Regions from separate parts of the Homo sapiens genome. Here all the other regions are reported to be linked to region 7. The links are microRNA targets in miRTarBase. Many come from high-throughput screens and were not tested one by one. Region 7 holds a microRNA gene; each other region holds the end of a gene's coding sequence.

Region 1 (4,186 bases), not on the chromosome of region 7:
GCAGTAACAGGCTGCCTAACCCGTCCTCCCAGGGGGCTGATCCTGCAGGACCTGACCTTCGTTCACCTGGGAAACCCAGACTACATCGACGGGAAAGTGAACTTCTCCAAGCGGTGGCAGCAGTTCAACATCCTCGACAGCATGCGCTGCTTCCAGCAGGCGTGAGTGCCACTGCCCCGGGGGGACCAGGCAGAGCTGAGCCCCGGGCCACACACAAGGAGAGACAGCCCGGGACACCGAGGGGAGGGGGAGCCACAGAGGACCCAGGGACCTGCCACTGCTGAGATATAGTCCGGGCCCTTCAGTTTCTGCCAGGATGACTTGAGAGCATGCCCACCAGGCTCCATGCCAGGCCTAGCCTGGCCCTGGGCCTGGACCCCGTGACAGCACAGCTCGTCCTCCCATTTTACACACCAGAAGCTGGTGCCCACCTTGCTGTGAGAAGGGCCTGACAAACCCTGGCCTGCCTGACTCTGAGGCACCAGAGCTCCCCCAGGGCGGGCCCTGGCATGCGTTGTTGGGGGCAGTGGGATCACCTGGGGCCCCCTCCCTGTGAGCAGCCCAGCCTCAGGGCCCTGTTTGTGCTCCATGTGCTGGTGGCACCGTCTCTGAGCACTGGTGTCCCCTCTGTCACATTGGTCAACGGTAGCCCCTGCAGCATCCGTTTGCTGCGAGGCTGTGGGGATGGTCCCCGCGGCACCTTCCAGGAGGGTGGCGCCATCGGGCCATCCAGCCCACACAGGTGCTCACTGACTGCTCCCCATCCCCTGCACCAGGCACTATGACATGCGGAGGAACGACGACATTATAAACTTCTTCAATGACTTCAGTGACCACCTGGCTGAGGAGGCCCTATGGGAACTGTCTCTGAAAATTAAACCCAGGAACATAACAAGGAGAAAAACAGACCGGGAAGAGAAGACCTAGGAGCAGACGCCGGGATCCAGGAGAATGCTCGAGGGGCGCAGAGGGCAGCTCCCAGACCGGAGAGGACCTTGGACCTGTTAGGCGCATGGCAGGAGTCCCGGCCTCGGAGCCATGAGGCTGGCCAGCCCTCAGCGGGGCCGGGCGGGAGCTGGAGCCTGCCAGCCGCTTCCTGCCTCCTTCCTCTGTGGGAGCAGACCCGTGGGCCTCAGGGCAGCCAGCAGGCAGGTCTTGTTGCCAATTTACAAACCGGTGGTTTTCTGGTTTGGTTTTGTTTTCTGCTTTTACTTCCATCTCTCCCCTCTTGACCTTCCACCCACTCCCCTCCAGGGAGAGAGCAGCAGAGACCTCATCAGCAGACCAAGGAAGTGGTGGGTGCTCCCCCTCCCTAAGCTCCAGGGTCCCTGAATCTTCTGAAATCTCAAATGAGTGGAGGCCTCCTGGGGTGGCCTGTCCTGCAGGGGCCCTGGAATGGGGGCAAGCAGCTGGGTGGGCAGAATGCAGAGTAGACTCGGGGGAGGATCCTTTCACTTTCCGCTTCCCCTTCTGATGCATGGAGGATGGTGTGAGCTTTTCAGCAGGCCCGGAAAGGTACGCAGGTGACGCCTTAGCAGCCCCGCAGCTGGTGCTCTGCCCCGCGGTACTGGCGCCATCAGGGCCTCCCTTGCCCGCCTGAGAGCAGCAGCAGTCTCTGTCATCCCGTCGCCCCTTACCCCCCACCCCAGGCCACTGGGCCCCTCCCACACCACCTGGGGAGCTGAGAAGAGGAGGCTGGAGTAAGGGAGGACTTGATCATCCAAGAAATACTTTTTATTGCTGGGAGTCTTCTGAACCTCACCAAACTGAGGCCAGAGCTGAGCTCCTGGGGGAGTTAATTCAGAGGGGAGAGGCCAGCACCTCCCTCCTCCATCGCTCGCTGTGTGCCTTAAACTCCATCTCATGTCCCTCCCCATCCCCTGGCTTTCCCTCCCTCCTTGCCCCATCCTGGGCCAGCCAGCAGGGCTCCTCCTCTGGCTCTTCAGACCTTTCAGCCAGTGCTGTCAGTGCCCCTGGGAGGGAAGGGCATCCCTGAGGCACCCGAATGGTCCCTCAGGGTGCAGGGAGGCAGAAGCCTGGCCACAGAGGAGCCTCCTAAGGCAGCAGCTGCAGCAAGCGCACCCTCTCCCCACTCTCCCCACGCCAGAGCGGCTTCCAGAGCAGATGCTGTTTCCATCCTCCTCGTCAAAACCATTCTCGCTGCTGAGCTTGACAATCTGGGCAAGGCTTGTGGGGCGCTTGACAAACAGAATCTGCCCTGTGCCGCCTGGTTCCGTGGCCTCCAGCATGAGCCTGCAGGCAGGGCGCTGCGGGAACCCAGTTGTGCTGCCCCAGCCCATGCCTCCGGGTCTGCTGTGCATGAATGAGTGCTCACTTGTCCCGGGTTTAGGACGTGGTCAAGTGAACAGCAGGGTCTAACTGTGCTTACTTAGCCCAGTTCAAACAGAACAAAGGAAAAATATAGAAAGCAACATCTGTTGATCATTTAGGTTTTTTTTTAAACCACCATGTCACTTTGAGTCCTTCATGGGTTTTTGAACAGCATTTATCAAGAAGAAAATGTGGGCTTTTTCCCCTCTCCCGTGTTTTGTTTGTCCTGTAGATAGAGGGAGGAAAGCCGTGCAGTGGCAGGCGGGACCCCCTCTGGTGGCGGGACCCCCTCTTGCGGTGGTCTTGCGGGGCCAGCCGGGACCTGTCACTTTATTATTTAAGGAGTGTGTGTGTAGAGTCGCTGGCTTATTAACAGTATTGTGTGTGGGTTGGGTTTTTAGTTTGTTCCTTCTTTTTGAAGTCCCTTCATTTCAATCCTTGACTCTCTCTCCCCTTCCCTTGCCCAGCTCTGTTGAATGCTGCTGTGCGCGTGTGAGGGCCGCTCTGCACACAGGGCCCTTGGGTTGTGTGAACTGAAATTCTCCCTGTATTTGTGAGACTCGCAGGAGTCCCCATCTGTAGCACAGGCAATGCCAGTGCCATGCTGCAGCCTCAGAAACCAGGCCTCTCACTCCAGCAGCAGGCAGAACCGTGTCTGTGGTCGGGTGCTGTCCACAGCTCTGTCTGCCTTGTTCTTGGGCTTGAGCTGGATAGAGGTGGGGTCTCTTCACCTTCCCTGAATTCAGAACAGACCCTGTGCCTGGCCCCAGTGTGCCCAGGCAATTCCCCAGGCCCTCACTGGGAGCCCTTGGTGTTCTGAGCAGCAGGGCCCAGGCAGCACATGAGCAGTGCCCAGGGGCTCCCTGCGTGAGGACGGCAAGGTGCGATGTATGTCTAACTTATTGATGGCAGGCAGCCCCCTGTGCCCCCTAAGCCTGGCCCTGGTTATTGCTGAGCTCTGTGCTCAGTGCTGCGGCCTGGCCGTGGCTCGTCTGTTCCTTTGGGGGGCCCGGGCGGGTTGTGGGAATCAGTCTTCACAGACAGACGTGAGCCAGGCGGAGGACTCGTTCCTTGCAGAGGTCAGTCCTCACCTGCAGGTGTCGGGGTGTGGGGGGGCAAGGAGGGGCAGGCACACACCATGTCTGACCTGAACCCGATTCTGGGGAGCATCTTCCCGCTCCGGCCCCACGACCTCCACAGGGTTACATTGTAATATATATGCCCCAGCTAACCTGTCTGATGGTGGCATCTTCCTGCAGACATTTCAAACATGTAACTTTTATATGAAAAAAAATAAACACAGATGAAAGCTGCCCAATGCCATGTCCGCGCCCAGCTGCATGTGTGCAACTACAGTGACAGCCCAGCCTGCTCCATGCTGGCCTTGCCATCTCTTTTCTGAGACCCCTGTCGCAGGCGGGGCTCCTGGGAGGCTGGGGTCATTCAGCTCCACTCCCAGGCCCACTTGCTGCCATTGGGGTAGTCGTGGCTGAGTGAAATGGACGTCACCAGAACTTTCCCTCCTAGGCCTTGTGCCCTAGAAGCATTCAACTGGACAAAGAATTGCTCGTGCTCCAGAGGTCGGTTCATGCACAAGAGCCCCTCACCCCAGTGTCCTGATGAAAAGGGCATTCCTCGGGTGGGATTCGGGGGCACAGGCTCTAGAATTGCTCCTTCGGGGCCCGGAAGCACTGTCTTTATGGCGTGCCTTTTGCGGTGTGTCCTCTGCCGCCCAGGAGGCAGCACACAGAGGCTCGGGCCCAGCCCCAGTGAAGAACAGCAGAGCCTCTGCACTTACAAGGGACAGAGTGAGGAGGCCCCAGGGATTCCAGTCCCTTCTCTGCCCCGAGGTGTG
Region 2 (4,000 bases), not on the chromosome of region 7:
GCCTCATTGTTCTCATTGAGTTACTTTATATTCAGTAAATGTTATAAATGTGAACTCAAGAATTTATCCTGGCAAAAGACACCGTAAACCTTTTACTGATGCAGTTACCTTTGAAAAAAGGGGTTTGCTGCTGAAAGTAAGAGGAAGAGGCACTTGATTCACTATTTACTAGCCAAGTAACTGTGAGAGCAGGTTTGTGAGTATCACAAGAAATGATATATTTTAAAATGCTACATAAGCTGAGAGTCTATGGAACACTGGTTTCCTCCTGCTCAGGACAGTGTGTTATGACATTTGTGGTTACAAATGCCCAATCGGGCCGGGTGCAGTGGCTCACACATGTAATCCCAGCACTTTGGGAGGCCGAGGTGGGCAGATCACCTGAGGTCAGGAGTTCGAGACCAGCCTGGCCAACATGGTGAAACCCCATCTCTACTAAAAATAAAAATACAAAAATTAGCCGGGCGTGGTGGCATGCGCCTGTAGTCCCAGCTACTCAGGAGGCTGAGGCAGGAGAATCGCTTGAACCCAGGAGGCAGAGGTTGCAGTGAGCCAAGATCACGCCATTACACTCCAGCCTGGATGACAAGAGCGAGACTCCATCTCAAAGAAAAAAAAAAAACAAACAAATGCCCAATTGACTCTCCTCTTTTTATAGTGAACTTTGGCTGAATTGGATGGCCCAAAACAAAAGTTTAAGTTTAGGGCCCAGTTAGGTGTGAATGTAAAGACAAATGAACTTTGATAGTCTTGGGAAAAGTTGTGATCTATCTACAAAATGGTGGTGGTGGTGTGTGGATGGGGGCACTAGAGGCAGGCAGTGTCACACGAAGATACACTGATACACCTCACAAATCTTTGGCATTAGACAGATCTGGGTTTGAATCCCAGCTCTGTTTCTTTCCGACCATGTGACTTTGGCTGTTTTAACCTTTGAGCCTTCAGTGTCCTCATCTACAAAATGGTGATAATAAAGTGTCTATCAAACCATTTTGAGATAAAATGATAGAATGTACATACACGTATTTGTGCACAGAGCTGAGTGACTGGTGCTCCCAAATGGTAGCCACTAATTCAAGACAGTTCTGTCAGATGTTGCAGGTAAAACACATTGGTTTTTTATCATTATTTGTTTCTTTTTAAGTAAAGGCTATGTCTATGTGATTAACTGGGTGACAGCAAGAAGTGGGTTCCTGTCCTGTTTGGAGGAAGGCAAAAGAAAATGAAGTCAGTTAAAGCTTTGTGGTGGTGGTGGAGGGTGTGTGTGGATCTTGAAACTCCCCAGGGAAAATGTGTGGGCCAGTGCACCAGAGGGTGCCTGGACCTGGGAGACAGCAGATGGCCCACAGCAGCCTGTCCCCTTCCCCTGGCCCACAAAGCACACGAAGAAGCCAACCAGCCAGCTCAGAACCGGAGGATCTAATGTACTACTTCTGAAAACGGAAATCCACAGACATTCAATACAGGCCGAAACAGACTCTCACCCCAAAAATATTAGTGAAAGTGCATACACTTTATTATGTACATTGTTGGAAAGGGAGGCCACCTGGAGAAACTTCTGCACTGGCACTGTGTTCCTAGAGCTCCTTCTATGCGTCCCTCCCAAGTGATTTAATTTCAGCTGATTGGACTACGAATTCACAAGGCAGAAAAGTCAAGGTCATTTGGTATCTGGAGACAGGAGAACTCAAGGAACCAAAAGCACTGTTACTCTAAGTCTCAGAAAAGGTTTTCAGTCAGGATATGGAGGCTCCTGGTCCTCAAGGGTGAACCACTTCACACAACAGATAAAACCATCATTTTAAAATTCAAAATGTAAGTGCAACTTGAGTTTAAGTTGCACTGCTCCATACCTCTAATAAACTCAGCTAGGAGCCAGGATACATGGTAGTTCAAGGCTTCCTAAAATAAGCTTGAAATTGGGGTACAGGGGAAGGGACATCCATTGGCTGGATGGACAGAGTGGTTGAGCTAAAGAGAGCTATAAAGGCTCGTGCTGGGAAAGAAAGCTGTTATGCTTAGACTTCTCTAGGTGAACTCAGAGTCTCAAAGAGGAAATGTTACAAATGTCACCCGCCAGCTTTCTGGCCAGTAAGCAGAATGCCAGGTTGCTCAGATTCACAGACATTTGCAAAACAGAAGATGTCTCCTAATATTATAGACTAAGAATTTGTTGTCCAGAGGAGCTGACCAGTTCCTCTTTCAGCATCAATATACATGATAGAAGAATGACTAGGTAAATTTAAAAAGACCTACATCTATATAGATATTGTAAGTTTGACAGTATCTGCCCAAGATCATTAGACACTATATAGTCAATATACTGTGAATTCCTTATACTATGTAATGAATGGGTTTGTAATCAACATATTTCACAGTGTACCACAGTTAACAGCATGCAGATAGTAAAATATAATGGTTTCCTGAAGTTATCTCTTAAAAAAGTATTTTAGTCCTTCAGCTATTCAAATAGATATATAACAATTGCATATAGAACGTAGAGAAAATTTTATTAAAAAATTAAAACTATTTAAAACCTGATATATGAAAATAGGCAACAGTGAGAAAAAAGCACTTTTGTGACAAATATTTAGCTGGTTTGAAAGACAGAACAAGGAGGAATCATTTACTCATAAAGAAGGCTCAAATAAGTTAAAACATGGATGTATTTTTAAAATGACCACTCTAGTAGTGAATTTAAAAGTCTTTTAAGGGTTAGAGTAATCTTTTTCATTAGTCTTGGCTATTTCCTCTAGTTCTGACAAGTACAGGCAAGAAAATGGCTACTCTCAAGTAAGGATTATTCTGAAACACGGTCTGGATTTAGAAAATAAATGAACATTAGGGAAATTTCCTTAATTAAGACTCTCCAAACCAGGTGTGGTAGCTCATGCCTGTAATCCCAGCACTTTGGGAGGCAGAGGTGGGTGGATCACCTGAGGTTAGGAGTTCGTGACTAGCCTGGCCAACATGGTGAAACCCCGTCTCTACTAAAAAACAATAATAATAATACAAAAATTAGCTGGGCATGGTGGCATGAGCCTGTAATCCCAGCTACTGGGGAGGCTGAGGCAGGAGAATCTCTTGAACCCAGGAGGCGGAGGTTGCAGTGAGCCGAGATCATGCTATTGCACTCCAGCCTGGGCAACAAGAGTGAAACTCCATCTCAGAAAAAAAAAAAAAAAGACTCTCTGGAGGTAAGGCACATATGACCTGGAGAAGCTGGTTGTGGTGTAAGGTCATCACTTTCTGCAAAGCATTTAGCCAGTCAGCGGTGTCAGGTGGCAGTTACAGCCCAGGTTCTTGCCTCTGGCCTGGGTGCTTAGGGGGTTCAGAATGAGTCAGTGGAAGTCAAAACAAGAGGGATCTAACCTACTACATAATAATCTAAAAATACAAACTTTTAACTATTTTAAGACTAACAGATTACCTTATATAAATCACCAATCTCTCAGTATTTACAAGCTAACAATTCTTTCACCTATTTTTATAACTGCTATACATTCTGGGAACACCACAATTGACATATGGAAAAAGAAAAGCCCTACCCTCTCTTTATGAGTTAAAGGCTAATTTGGTCCCCGACTTCATGCTTGGAAGGCTAGCGCTCATCTCTACACTAGCCTAGATGGCTGTGTTTTGCCCCTATGATTCCTTGCAGCATATCTATGGGCAGAGGGAAGACAATTGTTGAGTTTTTCTCAGCAGCAATGGTGGTCAGTGTCTGCAGGTATCGGAGCTGAAGGGCTGCAGGAGATTCAGTGATGACCATGGAGGCTTCTTTCAGAGCCCTGGATGCATTCATTTCTCCTTCGGCTGCAATAACCTATGGACAGGTGAAAGGAGGGGTTGAACTGGAGAAAACCTCATGGGGACACACAGCACTCTTCAACCGGGGGTATGTATACCTCAGGTGGTCCACAAAACTTTCTAGGGCGTATGCCAGAGTAGTTTTAAGAAAATCAATTTCTACATACTCAGTTTCCATATGCTTCTTTTT
Region 3 (4,217 bases), not on the chromosome of region 7:
CAGAATCACAACTCTACATTTCTCATCTAGCACTAGGGACTACAAGTTGTGTGGCAGATCTTCAGGCAGCTTCTAGGAACACTCTGGATTGAAGTGGAAAGGAAGCATTTCCTGATTTCATTTTCTAGCTGTCTTTCCTACTCAGGTTCTTTGGGCCATGGGTCATTTCCTAGTGTGGACAGCTCCATAAGCTGTGTGGAGTGTCAGGCAAGGCTGAGCGGATTCCAATATGGGAGAAAGATGCACGGTGCAGGCGCAGACCCAGAGCCCAGCCAGGGTCAGTGTCCCAATGGGAACAATAAGGATCTAGGAGGAAGTGGAACCGGAAGCTGGCTGCTTGCCCAACTGTGGGGTCACTTGGGCTGCGATTTCACCTCCATTTTCTCCTTTGGCTCCTCCATGCCGCAGATGAATTATTTTCACTGAAAATGAAATGCCTATGGCTACAGCCCCACTGAAAGTGACAATCCACGGCAGGGCCCAGGCACTAGGGGCAGGGGAGACTAGGACAATGAAAGACAAATCAAAGTAACTTCCAAATCATGCCATTTATTTTTCCTTAATGGATTTTACAGCTCATCTGAGTCTCTGCTGTGTTCTCTGAGGAGCTGTAGAATTTGTGTCGATGCTCTGTGTCCTCCGTCCTTCCCCAAATGAGCACATATGCAGGGCAGGCAAGAGCATGCTGGATTTGTCTTAGTTGTTAATTCACCTTCTGGCTTCACTGTGACACACATTTATCTCTACATGACATTCTCAAGAAAAATGATTAGGACAGAATCACAGCAAGGAGTGTGGAAGAGGGAGTTTTTTTAAAAAGTCAGTTAAAGAGAAGCAATGAACCACGAGGGTCCTTTAGGTAAAGGACCCCCACTCCTCATCTCTTCCTCTTCATTCTTGATCTTTCAAAAAGAAGCACAGGAAGAGGACTAGGCTAGCAAGGGTGCTGGTAGGCTGCATGGTGCCTCTGTACCCATTAATACCTGTTAACAAAAGGCACCCCTTCCTGCAGGAGGTGTAGCCCTTTCCATGGGGCAAGGCTTGGAGGGGATGAAATATCCTCCAAGAGTTCAGAATCCCCTATGGGCCCTGATGCTGATGGAGATCAGAGCCTCTCACAAGGAGGTCCCAAGCTGGTGACCTGGGAAGGGAGGCACTGATGCTCTGCCTGGCTGCCAGGGGTGTCCTTTCACCACCCCACACACAATCTACTCCTTGCATCTTGGACTCTGTTTTACTTCACAGGGCAGGGATGCAAACACGAAGGAAAGAGGTGTGGCACAGGCACAGTTTTAATGTGCAAACCCTTCCTAATGCAGGATCCCCATTGAACGGCCTGGGACCTGGCTGCCTTTGATGATGTCATATCTCATCTCATGAACCAAGATGGCAGGAATTCTCTGCAGCCAACCTTGACAGGAAATCATCCTGGAAATCCGCTGCTTCCTTAATTCATGCAAGAAACAGGGAGAAGGGGTATGGTCCTCTCATGAATGTTGTGCCATTCAGTTGAGACGTGTCACGGGTTCACCTGACAGCTCAGGGACTAAGGCTGGGTGGACGTCATTTATTAAGTATATTACAGGGCTGCAATTCACCAGCTACCAAGTTGGACTCTTTGCTCTGGAAATTTAATGTGTGGCAGCTGCGTGCAGCCGGTGATGTCCAGCATTTTAAAAAGGTCAATTAAGAAACGGTTGATGGTGGTGCAGCTAATGACAGCCCAGGGGGGTGAGCAGGGCGCAGTAAACAGAAGGGCTGAGACATATATTACTGGAATTGAAGTGTCCCAGTGAAGCGTGGTGGGGAGGAAATCTATTGTCACAAGCCATAAAGCACATCTGAGTTTTGCAGCGGAGAGCAGTACAGCTGTTTCCCTCCCCAGGCAGCGCTGGGAGCAGCCAGTGAATGGAGGGCTCGCCTACAAAGGGGACACCTGCATCAGCTCCATCAATTTGCAGACAAAAATCGCTACCCTCCTCGCTGCCTGTTCCTTTGCACTTCTCGTTTTCCCACTTGGAACACAAGGCAGATGCTGGAGTGATACTCAGAATGTGGGTCATGTTCTAGAATTCCATATTTTAAGCATTCCGGAAGCAGGGCTCCGCCCCTCCTCGCTGCGTGTGGGCGGGCGGACAGCCGGGAGCCTGAGAGTCAACCCCAGCCAGCGCTCTCCTCAGAAGACATCCGCTCCTGCCTCGGTGCGCGCACAATGCAGGCTGCGGATCAGACCCTTTACACTGCGACGGATAAAAGAGGGACACGAAACCCTTAGAAAAAGTCTATTTCGGACTGTGACAGAATTGGCTCATGGTTGGGGGAAGGCACTGTGTGGGGCTCCTTTTTAAAGAATCAGACAAAGGGGTCTTAGAATAAGTGCAGGGCTGCTAGGACAGGCTTTTTTTTTTTTTTTTTTTTTTGCCACATCTACCTGTCAAGCTAGAAATTCAATAGAGCAATGGGAATGCTAATTGACATGCAAAACAGGTCTAGGGTTCCTAGAAATGTCTAATGATCCTCCAATTCATTACGAATCCCGAATTAAGACATGCACTAAATGAGATGGGAGTGAGAACAGCAACCTTTTTGCTTTTCCTTTTTTTCCTTTTAAAACCTGCTTTGGGAAACTTCACAGGTTTTATCATTAAAAAAAGAGTATTGCAATCAGTGGGTTTTGTCTTTCACACACTGGATGTTTATTATTAGAAAATAGCTTCTATCAGCTGTCAGTACCAAACAAGTTGAAAGGAGCGAGCTTCTCACCATATTTTTTTTTCTCCTTAATGATATTTAAATAAACAGCTCACTGTGTGAGCTCACGCCCTTTTTCCCTTTAAAAACTGAATAATTAAATGAAGTTTAGTACAAAACATTCTTCAAATATGACTTGTTCTGCATCTGTTATGCTGTCTCCTTGAGTAATGGACGCGAAAGAGATGAAAAAGACCACTCAGGCTACCAAAGTACCCCAAAGAATCCATACGAGAAACTGAGAAACAAACTAACTCAAATAAGACCCAACCAAACCAAGAAACCAGTTTTTACGTTGACTTTTTGATTTTGATTATCATCTAAGTTTAATATATATATATATGTGTGTGTGTTTGAAATAGTAATAAAAAAGGAAGAATTGAATTGCATCCGTAGCAGGACAACCTTCCTCATACGTTAAAGAGGTGTTCAGAAAATTCCATACAGTATCTGCTAAATAAACATGTTTGGCAGCTTAGCAAATATCATATGATTGCAGCATCCATCATTTGAAGTAAAACAGCATTTGCTTTCTTCTGGCGGAGGTTGTTGCTTGGAGTGATGTGCTAATATGCTCTGGATGTTCTTAGACCCACAGGCTTAAGGAAGGGCTTGGGGGTCGCTCAGTGCATGACCCCAGTGCAGACACTTCCAAACCCCAAACAATGAATCAAACAACCAACCAACCATACAAACATCAAACAACTGTCTCCTTTGAGTTCCTCTTGACCGAATGGAGGCCCAGCAAGGACGGCTGGTTAGAAGGTACATTGACAGACTTTGGAATGAGGAGAATCACCCTCTGATTGGTCCGACGCCACTCGTTGTACAATCGACAGTGGTACCTAAATGACACCTGGGGATGGGAGAGGAAAAGTAAGAGAAAAGAATTCAGGTCAGCAGAAGTGGATAATCAATACAAGAAACAAATATGTCATTTGAAAGAGCTTCAAAGAGCTGGAAGCACTATGGCAGGGCAAGAACCCTGGGAAAATGGCTCTGGCACGCAGTGAGTGTTGAGAGATTGGGCACCAGCCAAAGAGCACCCTATGTGTGGACACATGGGCAGGGCTTGCATGGTGGCTTCCTTTGTTCCTCCTCATACCGGGTAAATTCAGGATATAAATGGGAAAATGAGGTTATTTCTGAGTTTGGATTTATTTTCGGACTAGTGGTGGATACAATGCCAGCCCTCGCCCAGCTGTGTGACCTCAGCAATGCGCCTATCAGGTGCCTAGGTTCTTCTCTGTTAGATGAGTGGGATGCTAGGGCTTCATGAACCTTCCTGCAAGTTAGACCCTGCACAACTCAAAGGATCCCATTCATACTATGATATGAAGGACACCCTTTGTACTGTCCTGTGGACAACCTGCCCAACAGCCTGGTGGCCCCAGTGGGTGATTCCTAATTGCATCCAGCTCCAGCATTCTATAGCTTCCAATAAGGAAATCACAGTGTGGCCACTA
Region 4 (4,217 bases), not on the chromosome of region 7:
GATCTATTCTACACATGACTGGCAGATTAATCATCTTAAAGCACAAGACCGGTATTATTATCCTCTTACATATATATATATATATATATATATATATATATATATATATATATATATATATGTTCTGTCCCTCTAAGAGAACCCCGACTAATACAGAGAGGGAATGAGGAAGCTAGGGAGGGAGAGCATTCCAGGCATAGAAAGCAGCATGTGCAAAGGCCCTGAGGCAAGAAAGAACTAGCAGAGTATAGGAGCGGATGAAAGCTGGAGCAGAGTTCAAGAAGTTGGAGGAGTGGGCATGGGCCAAGTCAAGCTGGGTCTTAAAGACCAAGGTAAAGAGTTTGGATGTTATTAAAAGTGAAATGGGAAGACAGTAAAGGGTAGTAACCAGGAAAGTGATGAAATTTGGAAAAACGTGAGGCAATGTGTGGACAGTGGTGGAAAGGAGCAGTAGTGATGATGGAGAGGCTGGTTTGGGGACTGCTGCAGTGGCCCTACTCAAGCAGGATTTGTGTGAATCTGCAGCCCAAGGTCAGGGTTAGAGAAATACATTTTGAATTTGTTTGCATAAAAATGGTTTTCCGATCATAAGGATGGATAAAATAAACTATGGAGTGGCTGGTAACACATTACCACAAACTTGTTGGCACACATTTCTTCTCTTACAGTTCTGGACCTCTGAAGTCCAAAATCAGTTTCAAGATATCTGCAAGGCCAACCTCTCTCTGGAGGCTCTAGAGGAAAATCCTTTCCCTTACCTTTCCCAGCTTCTGGAGATGCATTCCTTGCATTCCCTGGCCCATGGCCCTTTCCTCCATCTCCAAAGCCAGCAGCATGGCATCTTGTCTTGGTTGTCATATTGCCTTCTTCTGTAGCCAAATCTCCCACTGCCTCTCTTTCATAAGGACACTCATGATTACATATAGGGCCATTATGGATAATCCAGTATAAATTTCCTATCTTCAAGATCCTTAATCATACCTGCAAAGTCCCTTTTGCCACATAGGGTGACATTCACAGGTTCAGGGATTAGGACATGACATCTTTGGGGCAATATTCAGCCTACCACAGAGGGTAAAAAGCGAAAAAGGACCCAGTGTCAAGTTCTGAGGCATGCTAACATTTAGGTCAGACAGAAGAGAAGGAACTAGAAAAAGAGATTGAGAAGGAATAGTCATTGAGGAAGAAGGAAGGCTGGCAGAGAGTCATGTTGCAGAGCCAAGGGACTAGAGACTCCGAGTGTTCAGAAGGAAGGAGCTGTTTCTTGTTGCTGAGAGGTTGAGTAAGATAAAGATGGAGAAGAAGCCACTGGAAATGGCATCATGATTGGTGATCTCTACCACAGCAGATTGGGGTGTGGGGGCTGGGCACGCTGGATTGAAAGCCATCAGAATGGGCTGAGGAATGCATGGGGTGAGGTAGTACAGGCACCAAGTGTGAATACCTCTATGTTCTGCTATCAAAGGAAGAGAGAAACTGTGTCGGAGGGGGTTATAGAGTTAAATAAGACAGCACATTGCTTTCTGTTTTTAATGGCGGACATTGCTGATGGTTTCATAGAAAGATGCAGGAGGAAAAATGGATACCCAAGGGAATGAAGTCTTGAGAAAGCAAGAAGCAATGAGACCCAAAGTCAAATGAAGAGACTGTCCTGCTAGGAGCAGGGACACGTGTATTGTAATAGGAAGAAATATGTGTGTAAGTGAAGGCAGAGTTGATTTTCTCAAGAGTGAGGCTGAGAACAAGGAGTGTAGTTATGTTTGAGGAAACAATGTTTGAGAAGTCATATTATTTGTGGAGATACACTATTTTGTTTCATTTCCTCTAACAAGTGTCATTGGCATAGTCATAGCCCCTAAATATCTAAAAATTAATTCCACTTTAACCACCTCCCCTAGTTCAGTGATAGATAATTTTAAGTGAAAATAACCATGCAAATAGCCACCTTATGTGACACTTTATTAAAATGATAAATGATGCAATCAAACTACTTTGTGGTTTTGTTTTCATTAAAAAAATAAACTGAAAAGAAAAAAAAACAACTGAACAACTTGTCTTACTAAGGTGGGTAATAAATAAGGCATTTACCATAATTATGAAATTATGCAGCCTACACATGTATGAAAACTGTAGAACATGTACTATGAAATCACATTGTCAATGGTTAGCAGATTGAAATTCAAAATCTTTTGTGTATGCTGTTTGATATGACATTCAAGCAAACTATGAACAGAACTATTAGCATTTGCATCCCCTTTTATGTTAAGACTATAGCTTCTATCCAATTACCCATTTCCCCTCATGAAGATGAAGATGAGACAGTGTGAAAGGTCCCTCCACCAGAATATTTCTTAGGTCCTTGTCACTCACTTTGACATTCAAATTACCCACTGCTAAGGCAGGCATACCAGTATCACTCATCTAGCATTGGCATTGGAATCTCAGGGCATCTCGCCCAGAGCTAAAAGCAATTTCTCAGTCTTGTAATAAACAATGTTACTTTTATCAATCTTACACCTACTGTCTAAGCATAGGTATGGACAGTGTAGATTGCCTCATAATGGGTTGAGTTTAGTTGTTCAATAATTTTTTTGCATTTGAACCTTGGAAATTATTTATTAATTTTCAAAGCTGGTTTAATGGTTTAAGAGAATCTGCCACCAAGATTATCTTTTTCTCACCTTTCCTTTTCCTTTTTTCTCCTTCCATGAAGAGGTATGTCTTTAAAAGCCATAGAATCTAGGATATTTAGAGGTCCCTTCTCCTATCTAGTCACCTACATTGATAAATTCCTCCTGATGTTTCTCATACAATGAGAATGTTATAATTTCATAGAAGATGAGGACTTGTAAAGATTCCCTCTAACTGAATGAAAAATCAGACTCCAAATTCAAGCCCAGACTTGCCTCCTGCAAAGCTTCCCTCCCTGATAGAAAGCTTGCTCTAAACTCTCAGGGAGTCCCTGATTCATAAAGGGAGAGCCTAACATGTTCTTTTACAGATTTCAGCCCTCCCACAGTCTGCAGTAGAAATACAATTTCTCTACTTGATTTTTGAAAGTACAAACATTGCCACAGAAACATATTGTAAAAACATGTAACATGAAGTGAGTTGTAAACATTCAAGTATTTCTACAGGTTTGAATAAAAACAGCAGCAATTTTTTAAAAAACGTATAACTTTGCTTTTTAAAACAAGCACTGCACAGGCTATTTATATCAAAGAGGAAAAGGCCAGGAGAGCTGGTTAAAGCCTCCAAAAAATTTATTTGGTCTAATTCTATCAGCAGACACTGACTTAGACATTGCCAAGAACTCCTAAGAAAGATATTTTCCACAGAACCAAGGGATGCATGTTATGCAACAATGTTGAAAAAGTAGTGCCCTTCCAGTTAAATGTCTGAGGCACTCTAACTTTTTCTAGAAGCTGTTCACCTAGAAACTTTGGTGGTTAGCTAAGAAAGCACTGTTCAAGAATTATAAAAGATGGAATATAAAGATATCTTTCAGAGTGTCTCCTATTCAGTGAATCCAACCAAAGAATAGACTAAGAGTTGACATTCTCAGCCATGCCCATTCTCCTTTTTCTGTGTTTTATACCTGAGGATTATTCGCAGCCCATTTAAAAATAAATAAATAAAAGCAAATTGCTTTGGATGATGTTTGAGAGGATCAGAAGGCTGATCCAGGATACAGTGTCAACCTTCCTTGGTGAGTGATGCCTTGGTCCAGTTTCCCTGTTGGCTGCCATCTGGCCAGCTGTGGGACATCACCCTTTCCTGTTGAGGGAGACCAGATGGTTCACAGAGCATCCGTGGGGAGAGCACAGGACTGGACTTGCTGGTAATCTGTCTGCTTCATTGCAGAGCAGAGTCTGAGGGAGAGAATCACCGTGGTGATTAGAAGGAGGAGTCCAATGATGAAAAGGATGACCAAGGCTGCCTTGGCTCCTGTTGGACCCAGATTCTTGCCAAAGAAATAGAGCTGCTCTTTGCCAGGTCGTTCTGTGAAAAAGATAAACTTGTCAGGCCCCTGACATTTTTGAGGGGTGAAATGTTGACTCATTTACATGGGGAGAGGGTATCATTACCGTTAGATGGCACCGTGGCTGGGTGAGATGCCACTCCAGGAGATGTGGTGGAGTAAGGAATCCTGTTGTCTGCACAAAGAAAACAAGTTCATTGTTTTATTAACAACAGAAGGGGATTCTTTTCATGAC
Region 5 (4,000 bases), not on the chromosome of region 7:
CTCACATATAGAAGTATGCAGCAATTTTCATTCAGAAATATGGGAGAAAGAGACCAAAGGATCACGTGGAACAGATCAAAAAAAGAATACTCAAATTGAGTTGCAATCGTCTCCTGATGTGCAAAACAGTTTATTAGAAGATAAGACTTACCTTGATTCTGAAGAGAGAACTTCTATTGATATAGTATGCTCTGAAGGAGAGAACAGCAATTCAACAGAACAAGATTCATATAGTAACTTTCAGGTTTATCATAGTCAATTAAATATGTCCCATCAGTTTAGTCATTTTAATGTTCTCACTCATCAGACATTTTTGGGGACACCATATGCCCTTTCATCAAGTCAGTCTCAAGAAAATGAGAATTACTTCTTATCTGCTTATACTGAAAGCTTGGATAGAGATAAATCTCCACCTCCCTTAAGTTGGGGGAAAAGTGATTCTTCCAGGCCATATTCACAAGAGAAATAACTGTAGTAACTTTTTTTTTAAGAGATTGTTGTGGACTTTGTTTATTAACAATTTATATTTCATTCTCTAAACAAAAGGTTCTTGTTCTTTCTCAAATGTTTTTTCTTTTATTTAAATCATGATGGCCTGTAACAGTTGAAGCATCTAAAAATTGAAATAAATATATATTTTTAACATATATTGTACTTGAATTATCTCATGTTGGCACTTCTAAGTTTTACTTTTTGTATGTTACCTGTACTTAGGCTTCAAATTGAAGCCTGTTTTATGTGTAAAATCAGATGCTTGCAGGAGGACGGTAAACAGCAAAGGCTTTACTTCTTTTTCTCTAATGTCACCTGATATAAAGTACTTTTGTTGAAGTGAATTATTTTGATGTAGGCTTTTGTATACTGTGTTTACACAGGTATAAGTCAGTAATAGCAGTGTTAATATTTACAGGATTTTGGCTCGATACCTCAAGATTTATCTAACAGTGCAGTTTCATTTAGATAATAAACTATGTACATAGGACACATTTTTTATCTCTAGGCTTAGTCATGTAAAAACTGCCTATTGCTAAAATTCTGGTAACTTTTTGAGAGTATTGGATAATTTTCAGTACCTGCGCAATCCTTGATTTAATGAAATTAAATTTTTTATTTCAAAAGATAGGCTTCTGTTTATCAAAGGCGTTGAACAATTTGATTTTTAAATTAGTTTTAGCAAAATGGAAGTATAATGGGAATATATTTTTGAGGTGGTCTTAGTAGTAATTACCATTTGTTGAACACATTAATGCTATACTAGACAGATACAGTGGAGATAGCTTTCAAACCCGTATCTATTCCTAACTACTGCCTCTAATACTAATTACTAACTTGTTACTAATGCTAACTTTTAAAAATGTTTTTGAAAATTGCAATTTCTACAAATAAATGTCATAGTGCAAATAAATGTCAGGATTTAGAGAAGGAGCCTAAACTGAATTTGTGTTATTTCAGTAAAAGTTATGGAGTTATGGGTCTAGACGTGTTAATAAGTTAGACAGAACTTTGGCACTTTAGAACAAATGCATGAGTGGTATTTCAGTTCCTAAGTTACATAAAAAGTGTGAAAGAACACTGTGAGGTCCCAGCAACGCCAGACTATATTAAGGTAAGTAGAAAGTGTTTTTATAGGGCTTCAATACCCAGGTGGTGACAGAGCAGAAGAACCGGTTTTTTTTTTTTTTTTTTTACTACTAAGCTTTTACAAAAGAAGTATCTGTTTTATTGTATAGAACAAGTACAGCATTTTACTACATAGTATACAAGTTTTTAATGAGCATTTAAAAAAATAAGTAAATCTAGGCTATTTGAAAAATACAGTTGAGCCAGTGAGCACATTTTATAATTTGGAAGACACAAATCAAATGTGAAGGATTTGATTTTCTACATTTAAAATGAAGAACCAAAACTCTCTTCTTGATTTTCAGCTAAAGGCAGGAGACTACTTTCCAACTCCTTTTGCTTCTGGAGAAGGCCCTGAAATCACATTGATATATGTTTGTTAGTAAAATGTGCACACCTGACTTGCAATGTTGTGTTAAACTAGAATTATATTCACTTGGAAAACATATCGCTTAGGATAAAATTTTGTCATTCAAAAATTTTTTCAGAAATGCTTGTACTAGACCACCTCATTTGGATATATAGCTATCACATTTGTAAGATTCTGTTTTTAGCATAAAAATCAATAGGGATGAAAATTTTCTTAGAACTCAAGACTCCATAACTATGGGGGTAAATGAAGTCATCCCTTCTCCCCCAGTCCACCCCCAAGTGCTCTTAGATACTGAAGGAGTCTCCCTTAACATACAGTGTTTTTTTTTTGTTGTTGTTGTTTTGTTTTTTTTTGGAGATGGAGTCTCGCTCTGTCGCCCAAGCTGGAGTACAGTGGTGCAATCTCACTGCAAGCTCTGCCTCCCAGGTTCACACCATTCTCCTGCCTCAACCTCCCGAATGGCTGGGACTACAGGCACCCACCACCACGCCTGGCTAACTAACTAACTAACTTTTTGTATTTTTAGTAGAGACAGGGTTTCACTGTGTTAGCCAGGATGGTCTTGATCTCCTGACCTCATGATCTGCCTGCCTCAGCCTCCCAAAGTGCTGGGATTACAGGCTTGAGCCACTGCTCCTGGCCAACATCCAGTATTTTATCTTGACTGTCCTAACCTTACCTTAGATGCTAACAGAAGGGTCCTGCTGAAATAACACTGGGTGCTATATTGATGGGTAAATGTGTACATCCTATTCCTTCCTCTTTATCTCACAATTTTTGTCTCCACTAAGCAAGAAGTAAACTAACACTTCGTCACTCTAAAGAAATAACTTATGTAAAACTCTTAGTAACCCTGTTTGTCTTCAAATGAGTAAATAGACCAAAGTGGGGGGACAATTTTCTAGTTCTGTAGAGGGAAAAACATCTGAGTCAACATTTTGAAATGCAGAGGGTATTGGTACATGACGACATGGAAAAGGGCACTTTTAAACACAGCTTACTCTTCCTCAAGTACAGAGAGTATATAGTGAATCAAAACTAACTACAGCCATTCTTTTTAAAGCCCAAGGGATGGAGCAAAGGTGTAAGGATGTTACCTGTTTGTTTTAATCAGAGAGCAAAAAGAAGTCACAATAGTTTGGGAGAAAAAGTAGTATGGTGAGTAAGGTTATGCGTATAATTTCATACTGAATTTATTACTATTTGGGATGTACGTCAATGTTCTAACAAACACTGCCAACACGTCAATTTTTTAAAAAGCGTGGGCCACATTGCTAAGAATTTGTTAAAGCATAACTGTATTTTTTGTTTTAGGGCCTTATTGATGTTTTGCCGTTCCAATGTATGCATTTTTTTACTCAATAAACTTGTCTTAATTTTAGAACTGTCTGATGATTTCGTACTGGAAAGAACTACTCAAAGACGGCAGTGTAAAAGCAAGTCTTAGGAAAGTCCCATTTTATTTGTGTCTAACAAACATACAGGAACTGAAATATTTTTGTTAAATCCTGGGATGCACCGAAGTAACTTAAAACAAACCGTTCAACAGGTTCCCCCAACCGCCCACGCCACATAAAGAACAGACATATCTACACTTGAAAAAGCTCATACCTGTCTCAGTTCTGAAAGTCCCTTAAGGATTGCTTGCTGTCGATCCCTATTTTTCACCATGTTAGGATTAAGAAGTGGATCCCTGACACAGTCAGAATCAAATAGCTGTCGTTTTTGGCCACAGTCTAAAGCCAGATGAAAGTAACAAGTCAGTCAATTACATTAGTAAAATGACATAGCCCTGTGCTATATAATATTGTCAGGAGTCATTATAATAAGTATGTATCCTAGGAAAGTACTAAGAAAAATTTAAGACATATTCAAGAAACTTTATAGAACTAAGTGCAGGAATTACTAATTTGGAATTTAAAGTTGTTGACGGGGTTTACATGGGTCTTCAATTTTTACAGTTAGAATGCTTAATATTTACTTACCTTGTGAATTTTGGTACTGAGG
Region 6 (4,217 bases), not on the chromosome of region 7:
GATCCTCCAGCCTCAGCCTCTCAAAATGCTGAGATCACAGGCATAAGCCACTGTGCCTGGCCTATTCTCTTCTTATAAGACACCAGTCAGATTGGATTAGGGCCCACACTACTTGGCCTCGCTTTCACTTAATTGCCTCTTTAAAAGCCCTGTTTCCGAATACAATCCCACGCTGAAATACTGGGGGTTAGGGCTTCAGCGTATGAATTGTGCAGGGACACAGTGTAGCCCATAACACCAGGAGCAAGTCAGACCCATACCAGACTTGTGGAACCCTGAATTGGTCATTTTGCTGAGGCTGCCTGAGGAAAACAAAAGGCCCAATGCGTGTCCGGTTTCCTCCCTGGTCAGCCACTCTGTCTGCATCTTTGAAGAGTAGGAATGGGCTGGGCTCCTATCTAAACCCTGAGTGTGCCATACCATTCTTCCCAGCAACTTTTACTTTGTTGACTTTGTTGGCCGAGGATTTCCTAATCACATTGTTGTTTTCCTGGCAGTTCCCAAACCAGATCTAGATTCTTACGTGTTTCTGAGAGTGAGAGAACGACAAGAAAACATACTGGTAGAACCAGACACAGATGAGCAGAGGTGAGTGGCGTGCATCTTTCACAGTGGGCACATTCCTCCCGATGGAGGGCCAGCCGAGCTCTGCAGGCAAATGTGTTTCCCTCTTTTTCAGGGACTACGTGATTGACCTGGAGAAGGGCTCACAGCACTTGATCCGATACAAAACCATTGCACCTCTGGTTGCATCTGGAGCTGTCCAGCTAATTTAAAACTAGGCATAAACAGCCAGGCATGGTGACTCAAGCCTGTAATCCCAGCACTTTGGGAGGCCGAGGCGGGCGGATCATGAGGTCAGGAGTTCGAGACCAACCGACCAACATGGTGAAACCCCATCTTTACTAAAAATACAAAATAATTAGCCGGGTGTTGGTGGTGTGCACCTGTAATCCCAGCTACTCAGGAGGCCGGGGCAGGAGAATCGCTTGAACCTGGGAGCAGGAGGTTGCAGTGAGCCGAGGTCGTGCCATTGCACTCCAGCCTGGGTGACAGTGAGACTTTGTCTCAAAAAAAAAAACAAAAAACAAAAAAAAAACAAACTAGGCATAAACTCATGAGGTCAGGAGATCAAGACCATCCTGGCTACTAAACCCCATCTCTACTAAACCCATCTCTACTAAAAATACAAAAAATTAGCCAGGCATGGTGGCGGGCCCATCTACTCAGGAGGCTGAGGCAGGAGAATGGTGTGAACCCGGGAGGTGGAGCTTGCAGTGAGCCAAGATCGTGCCATTGCACTCTAGCCTGGGCGACAGAGCGAGACTCCATTTCCAAAAAAAACACACTAGGCGTAAACAAGAATGAAGACCTGGAACCGTAGAGAAAATACTAGAAACCCCTCGTATCACGTTGTGCCTGAGGACAATAATAAAGTAGTTTACTAGGCATCAGACATTCCTCAGCAGTGCTGTGGGTCACGGGCGTGAAGCGGAGCTCGAGGCAGGATTGCTTGTGTTGCTGCATGTCCTGTCTGCTGTTTTAGCCCGTGTCAGTAGATGGGGCCATTGTACTGTTTGTTCTGCACACTTGGCGGAGCAGCAGAGGCTCTCAGCACGCCTTTTCCCTTTGTAGTATTTTCTGAGCTAAGGAAAGTCAGGCAGAAGTAGTTCATAAGAAGGCATCACTGCCTGTGATCGGGGCTGCATTTAGCCCTGACCTGATAATGGTAGGAGAGTTCATTTAGCCTTTCTGCTGCGAAGATTGTAAATAGATTAAAGAAAACAGCTGTGGCCTTCTCCCGTCATACATCATTAGACTGTGTAAACTAACATTTTAGAACCTCTAATATTGGACTTAAAACCAATTTCTGTCGTGCTTAATTGAAAATCACAACTAAACCAATAAACCATTATTAAATTTCCATTCTGCAGCAGAAGGCACCTCTGGACGGCTCCCGGCTTGTAGTTTAATGAAGTATGTGCTCCCTGCTGTTAACCCGCAGCCCTCCCCAACTCTCCAGCAGCTTTGCCAAGTCAGCCTCCGGGCCATCTGGCTGTCCTTGGCCAAGGCACTGTTAACGGAGTGACGTTAACCATCTTGTATTGTGACCTGTGGCCGCTTTTCTGGTTTAAGTCCTTCACTTTTTCAAGAGGAATGGATGAAATTAATGTGCATGCAGAGTCTCACAGTGATGCCGGAAGGAAGGATGTATAGGCAGTGAATGAATGATCTTTCCTTGAAATGCTATAAAAAGCAACCTGCATTCCAGTCTTTTCTTCCTGGTTGAAGTTGGCAGATTTCCATTTGCAGGGTATGGGCTGCGAGAGTAATCAGGGTAACATTGCTGTCATTTCCAAGAGAAATCAGTAGGGGAAAGCAAGGGAGGTCTTTTTTTTTTTTCTTTTTTGAGACGGAGTTTCCCTCTTGTTACCCAGGCTGGAGTGGCAGTGGTGTGAACACGGCTCACTGCAGCCTCCACCTCCTGGGTTCAAGAGATTCTCCTGCCCCAGCCTCCCGAGTAGCTGGTATTATAGGTGCACACCACCACACCCAACTAATTTTTTGTATTTTTAGTAGAGATGGGGTTTCATGATGTTGGCCAAGCTGGTCTCGAGCTCCTGACCCCAGGTGATCCACCCACCTCGGCCTCCCAAAGTGCTGGAATTATAGGCGTGAGCCACTGCGCACGGCCTGGGGAGGTTTTATTTCTTGACAAAGGTATTTGATACTCGTGCAGTCCCTGGAGGGTCTCACTGGAGAGACAACATTTAGGCTGAGATCTGATTAACAGGAGGCAGCTGCAGTGCAGAGGTCAAAAGGGAGGGTGTTCCAGGCAGAGAAAACAGCCTGTGCAAAGGCCCTGAGGCAGAAACAAACTCTACTTGAGGTCAGCCTGGTTAGAAAGCCCAACTCAAAATAGAAAGTATTACATGATAAGGTCTGAGGCAGGCTGGACCCAGATCTTACAGGACCTTGTTAATAAGGATCCCATTTGGTCCCCCACAGTCCTGAGAAGCGGGCAGGGCTGTGGGAAACAGCAGATATTTAGTGGTAAGCCTGAGATCAGAACCCAAGTCTGCACTTCCTAGTCACGTTCTCCCTGTAGTGCTAAGCCCAGAGACCTGAGCTGTTAACCTAGAACAGTGTGCTTCCTAAGCCTTAATGTGCATACCCATCGCCTGGAGCTCGCCTTAAGATGTAGGTTCTGCCTGAAGCCCAAGTTCATTTAGTATGTCATGGTTAATTCAGAGTAAAATCAAGAGTTAGTACTTGATTTATGCTTGTTATATAAAGAAAGAGACAACTTCACTGTATGATCATTTTGTCACTTTTCAAAAGCATTTAATTCCCATTCAATTGAAAATGTTTCAAGAACAAACCTGTTTGGTCATTTTATTGATATTGCACATTTGTATATGAATAAATTTTTGCAAATTAAAAAAAAAAAAGATGTAGGTTCTGAAACAGGGTGAGGTCCAGGATCCTGCCTTTCTAAGGAGCTCCCATGTTGTGCAGTTGCTGCTGGCCCGGGGACCACATTGAATGACGGCTCTACGTCCTCATGCCTCCAGCTGCTGCCCTGTACATGTCCAACTGCACGGAGCACTTTACATCCTCTAAAACCACAGTAAATTGCTCCATTTCCTAAATTACCTCTTCAAGAGAAGACTGGTTTTGATGTCATTTTTAAATAAAGGAGAAGTTGAATTTCAAAACCAAGTGGAACAGGAAATGATGTGACTTGGTTGACATTGATTTTAACATTTGGTTCATGGTGAGTGTTTTGCTTTATTGTTAAAAACTCGCCACTAAAAGCATGACAGAACATTTTATCAAATGATGGCGTCATCCTTTACCGTAAGTTTGCCCCTAGCAAGACAGCTCTTCCTGAGACGTGCTTGCAGGCCGCTATGTGGGTTTTCCCACCGCAGTCATCATCCGTCATCTGTGACCTTGCTGCATTTACTCCATGCTCACACCCCAGCAGCCCGCCTGGCTTTGGCATCGCCCTCAGAGGCATCAAACTTCCCCTGCTGCAATGTACAAGAGTTAGCCAGGAAGCTTGCAGAGTGCTTTGGTTTTGTTTTGTTTTTTTGACATGTCGCCCTGGCTGGAGTACAGTGGTACAATCTCAGCTCACTGCAACCTCCGCCTCCTGGGTTCAAGCGATTCTCCTGCCTCAGCCTCCCAAGTAGCTGGGATTACAGGTGCAC
Region 7 (4,217 bases):
AGGTCTCAAAAAAAAAGAAAAAAAAAAAGAAAAGAAGAGAGGTGGGTTCTTCTTGCCCATGCAGTTGTGTTGGGGGAGGAGCTCCCAAGCTCCTGTTCTTGATCTCAAGCTCCCCTATGCCCACTTCCATCCCCACCCCCATGCCGCAGCCCCTCGGACTCCACACCCAGGCACTGAGACCCACAGATGCAGCGATGGCAAGGCCTGTCATCCCTTCTCTACCACCAAGAGCTGTGCAATCCCCAGAAGTCACTGTCCCTCCCTGAGCCTCAGTTTCCCCAACTGCAAAATGAAAATAACAAAACCTTTCTGATTCCCTTTCCAGGGTGGCTGCGGTGGTTGAGCCACACGCGGCCCATGTGGAAATGTCTGGGGGGTCCCTCAGATCTGGTGGCTGTGTTCTGGTCTGGGGCTCACCTTGGCTCCTGAGCACTTGGCTCCTGGCTGGCTGGGCGGGTGGTGGGATGGCGTGTCACCGCCCTGCACTGGAATGAATGGTCACCACCCTGCTGCCCAACCCCATACAGACACACTAATGGCTCCAGACTTGGGGCAAGTGCTGAAGGGGGCTCTAGGGTATTTCCTAGAGCCTGAGCCCTCCCCTCAGCTGCCATGTTCTGCTGAAGCAGAGTCCCTGGGAGGCGCCACTGGTCAGGCCTGGACACCTCCAGGTGACTAAGTGGGTAGGACCGGCAGGGCCAGCTGCGCCAGGACGTTCGGGGCTGGGCTGTGAGTGGGGGGAGCGAGGCTCAGGCCCTTGCTGCGTGAGGGGGTAGGGCGTCCCTCCCCCCGCGTGGGAAATGAGGAGGCAGGTACGGGGCTACCCCTGTGGGCTGCGGGGTGGGGGTTCAGGGTCTGAGAAGCAGAAACCTCCCTCCCTCCAGTTTCACTTTCTCTTTACCCCTCCCCTTCCCCCTCCCACGAAGTTCCCTTTGAAGTGAGAGGGGCTGGGGTGGGTGTGTCCAGCCCAGCCCCCACACCCACCGGAGAGCTAGCGCGGCCCTGGGCTCCTGTCGGGCGCTGGTCCTCACCTGTTCCGGCCACCCTGGGCCTCGACCCGGCCAAGGTGGAGCCCCGGGCCCTCCGTGCGCCCGAGCACCCCCGGCCCAGACGAGACGGTTCGGGCGTGGCCCGGCGGGGACCCAGAACCCGGGAGGCCAGGTGCGCCCAGGCCAGGCGCTGGAGGCTGGGGCGCCGGATGGGGCGGGGCGGCCGCTGAGTCAGGGCCACCCCCGCGCGGGCGCGCGGAGCAGGTCCCCGGGCCGTGGAGGATCAGTCGCGGGACCTATGGGCCCGGGAGCCGCCCCGCCCGGAAAAACCGGTCGGGCCAGCGCGGCGCGGGCACATTCCGGCGCCGGGAAGGGCGGCTGCGCCGCATAAAAGGCGCCGCCGCGCTGGCCACCGCCGCTCGGAGCTCAGCCGCCCTGCCACGCGGGGCCCGCGGGACGAGGGGACGCCGGGGCCAGCGAGGACGCGGCGGGGCTGGGCTTGGCGGCTGGGATCCCCCAGCGCCAGGCGAGGGCGTCTAAGGCGTCCGGTACGGCGTCGGGGCCGGGTGGCTGCAGCAGGGCAGGGGGTGCGCGACCAGCGGGGATCTGGGCGCAGGGGCCGGTCCCCGGGATCCGCAGGCGACGCGGGCGGTCCCAAGGGCGTCGGGGGCTCCTCTCTCCGCAGCTCGGCGAACCGACGGTGTTGGGGACTCGCGCGCTGGGTCCAGTGGTTCTTAACAGTTCAACAGTTCTGTAGCGCAATTGTGAAATGTTTAGGACCACTAGACCCGGCGGGCGCGGCGACAGCGACGGAGCGTCCCACGCGCGGCCTGGAGTCAGAGTCACAGTCAGGGGTGCGCCGGCGACCAATCCAGGGGAGCCCACGGACCGGCTCCGCGCTCCAGGTCGGCCGCCCCATGCGCCGCGCCCCGCAGTCCCCAGGGCCTGGCTGGCTCCACCTGCTGCCAGGGAAGACCCTCGGCCGGAGAGCCAAGTGCTGCTGGGAGGTGGCCGGGCGTGGCCGGGCTGTGCTGTGGGAACCGCTGGGTGGGGGCGCGCTGGGTTGCCCACGCTCCTGGCGCGCTGCCGGCCTGGAGACGCCGCCGCCGCCCTCTTGCACCCCGAGGGCCCGCACCTCGAAACTCCGTGGAATTCCCAGCGAGGAACTGGCGGTGGGCCCGTAGGGTTGAGGAGCGCTCCTTGCCCTGGGCTTCCTGGGAGCTGCCCATCAGGCTGCCGGCAGCCGCACCCTGCTGGGCGGCCGATGGTTCCCGCTGCCGGCTCCCCGGAGCGTCTCCACTCACTGAGGCCTTAGGGAGCGCTGCGCGGCTCCTACGAGTGCGCGCTAAACTCGTGAAGGACCTCGAGGCACAGGAACTGGGGGTGGGGAGGAAGTTTGCAGACTACACCCAGGTAGAGGAGAAGCGGCGCCCATGATGACAGGTGCCTTCGCCGGAGCCTCCCTGGAACCTCGTGGTAGCTAGCGCCCACAGGAGAGGTGTGCGCGTCAATCTGCGTGTGAAGCCCCGGGCGGCCCTGGGAGGGACTCAGCAAAGGGTCGAATCTGTCCCCACCTCCAGCCAGGGGCCGGGGTCTTCTGCCTGGTGCTGCCTGGCCTGCTGTGTCCTCTGGGGTGGAGGGTCCCCCTCCAGTCCCCACCTCCTCACCCAGTGTTTAGAGAGCTGCGGGGAGTCCTGGGAGATGGGTCAGACAGGCCTGGGTTTGAGGCCTGCTAGGGTGGCCTTGGGCCAGTCACCTGCCCTCTCTGAGCCCGACCTGCACACATAGGGGGTTGATGTGAGGAGACAGGAGGTGACTGTGGAGGGCTGTTCCAGAAGAGGGCCAGCAGCAGGACAGCAAGGTCCCCTGGCCACCCAGGTGGGGGGAGTGGAGTTCCCGGGAGAGCATCCACCACTGGCCAGTGCCTCCTCTGTTGCTCAGCAAATGCCATTGTGGCCACCTCTCAGGATCTGGCTTCAGAGCTTGGGGCCGTGGGAGCGCCCAGTGGGTCTGTGGCATCGGAGGGGTTGGAGTGTCTTCCCCAGCTGCTGCCTGCTGACCACCGCAGCCCCCTGTAGCCATTTCATTTTACAAGCACGTTCCCCCGTGCCCTCTGCATGGGCCCTCAGCCCTCAGCAGCCCCGTGAGAGGGGCTGAGGCTCAGGTGGGAGATGGCGGCTGTGTCCCTGTTCTGCGGCTTGGAGGCATTCTGTCCGGTGTGCGTCTGTACAATTTAGACTGATGACAATAAACATGTTCCAAAGCATCGCTGTGTCCCTGGGGTGCTTGTCCTTTTCCCCCAGGCCTCAGCGTGGTTTCTCCCTTGAAAGCAAGCCAGCCTTTTCCTTCTAATCTCAGAGAAGCAGAAATGAGGATGGTTGGTGGAGGGGCAGTGGCCTGGTCCTTACCCAAGACCCTCCCTCAACTCTGCCTCTGGCACTTTGGTCTCCAGGGAAGCCCCCAGCCTCTGCCACCAGCTTTCTCGTTGCAGTGACCTCCCCTGGGCCACTGGGCCAGACCCCCTCCCTCGGGTTTGAGCTGCACTGCCTCAAGGAGCCAGGCTGGGGAAAGGGCTTGGCTCCCAGGGGCCCCACTTTCAGGGGCTCCAGCCTGCTCCCACTCCCCCCACTCACCACAACACTGCTCCCTTGGCTGGCTCCCACTCATTCCCGCTGGAGCCTGTAGGCTGGCCCTGGGGACCTGGCCAGGAGAATGGGCAAGGTGGGAGGGTTGAGGGATTGAAGAGACAGAGGCACCTTCCTCCACCCTCCCTGCCTCTGGCACAGGGGACCGAGAGTCTGTCGTGCATTCAAACCCCAGCTCTATGCCTACAAGCAAGTGACCTTGGCAAGTCCCTTATCCCCTCGGAGGACCTGTTTCTTCCTTCTGTAGGATGACGTGGAGCTCGCTGGAGGTTCCCCTGACATGATGCAGCACACTTCCTGAGTGCTCAGCAGGGCAGAGCTCAAGCTGTCACTGGAGCTGATGTGGTGGGAGGGCCAGTGGGGGATCCTTGAAGAGGCCGAATTTCAGCCAGGGCCTCGGAGGACCAATGGAAGGCCTCAGGTGGCAATGAGGTGTGGTCTTACAACAGGCCCCTACTTGGTCCCTGGGGACACCAGGAGGACAGGCCCCTACTTTGCTGAGACTAGACCTGTGCTTCCTGGCACCCCAGCCCCTCCACTCCGGCCTCTCCAGCCTCTGCCCCTGACCCAGGTGGAGGATGGC

The links. The annotated mature microRNA hsa-miR-203a-3p reads GUGAAAUGUUUAGGACCACUAG and lies in region 7 at 1,754-1,775, shown strand. An mRNA with a match to its seed (bases 2 to 7 or 8) in the 3' UTR can be bound and repressed. Matches are read on the target gene's strand: a 7mer-m8 pairs with bases 2 to 8, a 7mer-A1 pairs with bases 2 to 7 and ends in A, and an 8mer does both.
Region 1: miRTarBase lists RAPGEF1 as a target of hsa-miR-203a-3p. Seed matches in the 3' UTR shown: 8mer at 2,759-2,766 and 8mer at 3,592-3,599.
Region 2: miRTarBase lists STOM as a target of hsa-miR-203a-3p. Seed matches in the 3' UTR shown: 7mer-A1 at 1,914-1,920.
Region 3: miRTarBase lists MARCHF3 as a target of hsa-miR-203a-3p. Seed matches in the 3' UTR shown: 7mer-A1 at 3,105-3,111.
Region 4: miRTarBase lists HEPHL1 as a target of hsa-miR-203a-3p. Seed matches in the 3' UTR shown: 7mer-A1 at 2,173-2,179.
Region 5: miRTarBase lists TASOR as a target of hsa-miR-203a-3p. Seed matches in the 3' UTR shown: 7mer-A1 at 1,110-1,116.
Region 6: miRTarBase lists GINS4 as a target of hsa-miR-203a-3p. Seed matches in the 3' UTR shown: 7mer-A1 at 3,711-3,717.

Annotation. Positions count from the first base shown.
Region 1 is chr9:131,576,238-131,580,423 of GRCh38, reverse strand. It overlaps RAPGEF1 (Rap guanine nucleotide exchange factor 1), which reads left to right. Exons shown (of 27, transcript NM_001377935.1): 26 at 33-161; 27 at 777-3,649. The coding sequence ends at 927. Among named protein-coding and RNA genes, the nearest start is that of PRRT1B, 33 kb to the right of the region's middle. RefSeq lists enhancers at 996-1,075, 1,276-1,405, 1,436-1,485.
Region 2 is chr9:121,337,583-121,341,582 of GRCh38, forward strand. STOM (stomatin) reads right to left here. Exons shown (of 7, transcript NM_004099.6): 7 at 1,405-3,826. The coding sequence ends at 3,620. Among named protein-coding and RNA genes, the nearest start is that of STOM, 31 kb to the right of the region's middle.
Region 3 is chr5:126,867,185-126,871,401 of GRCh38, forward strand. It overlaps MARCHF3 (membrane associated ring-CH-type finger 3), which reads right to left. Exons shown (of 5, transcript NM_178450.5): 5 at 530-3,607. The coding sequence ends at 3,449. Among named protein-coding and RNA genes, the nearest start is that of LMNB1, 92 kb to the left of the region's middle.
Region 4 is chr11:94,111,477-94,115,693 of GRCh38, reverse strand. HEPHL1 (hephaestin like 1) reads right to left here. Exons shown (of 20, transcript NM_001098672.2): 19 at 4,089-4,157; 20 at 1,486-4,002. The coding sequence ends at 3,800. Among named protein-coding and RNA genes, the nearest start is that of PANX1, 15 kb to the left of the region's middle.
Region 5 is chr3:56,619,506-56,623,505 of GRCh38, reverse strand. It overlaps TASOR (transcription activation suppressor), which reads left to right. Exons shown (of 24, transcript NM_001365635.2): 24 at 1-3,374. The coding sequence ends at 469. It overlaps CCDC66 (coiled-coil domain containing 66), which reads right to left. Exons shown (of 18, transcript NM_001141947.3): 16 at 3,979-4,000; 17 at 3,605-3,729; 18 at 1,669-1,974. The coding sequence ends at 1,888. Among named protein-coding and RNA genes, the nearest start is that of TASOR, 62 kb to the left of the region's middle.
Region 6 is chr8:41,541,312-41,545,528 of GRCh38, forward strand. GINS4 (GINS complex subunit 4) reads left to right here. Exons shown (of 8, transcript NM_032336.3): 7 at 498-588; 8 at 680-3,719. The coding sequence ends at 776. The region is part of intron 1 of GPAT4-AS1 (GPAT4 and GINS4 antisense RNA 1); the gene reads right to left. Among named protein-coding and RNA genes, the nearest start is that of GINS4, 14 kb to the left of the region's middle. RefSeq lists enhancers at 1,636-1,865, 3,830-3,979, 4,040-4,129.
Region 7 is chr14:104,115,716-104,119,932 of GRCh38, forward strand. It overlaps MIR203A (microRNA 203a), which reads left to right and starts at 1,690; the gene lies at 1,690-1,799. It overlaps MIR203B (microRNA 203b), which reads right to left and starts at 1,788; the gene lies at 1,703-1,788.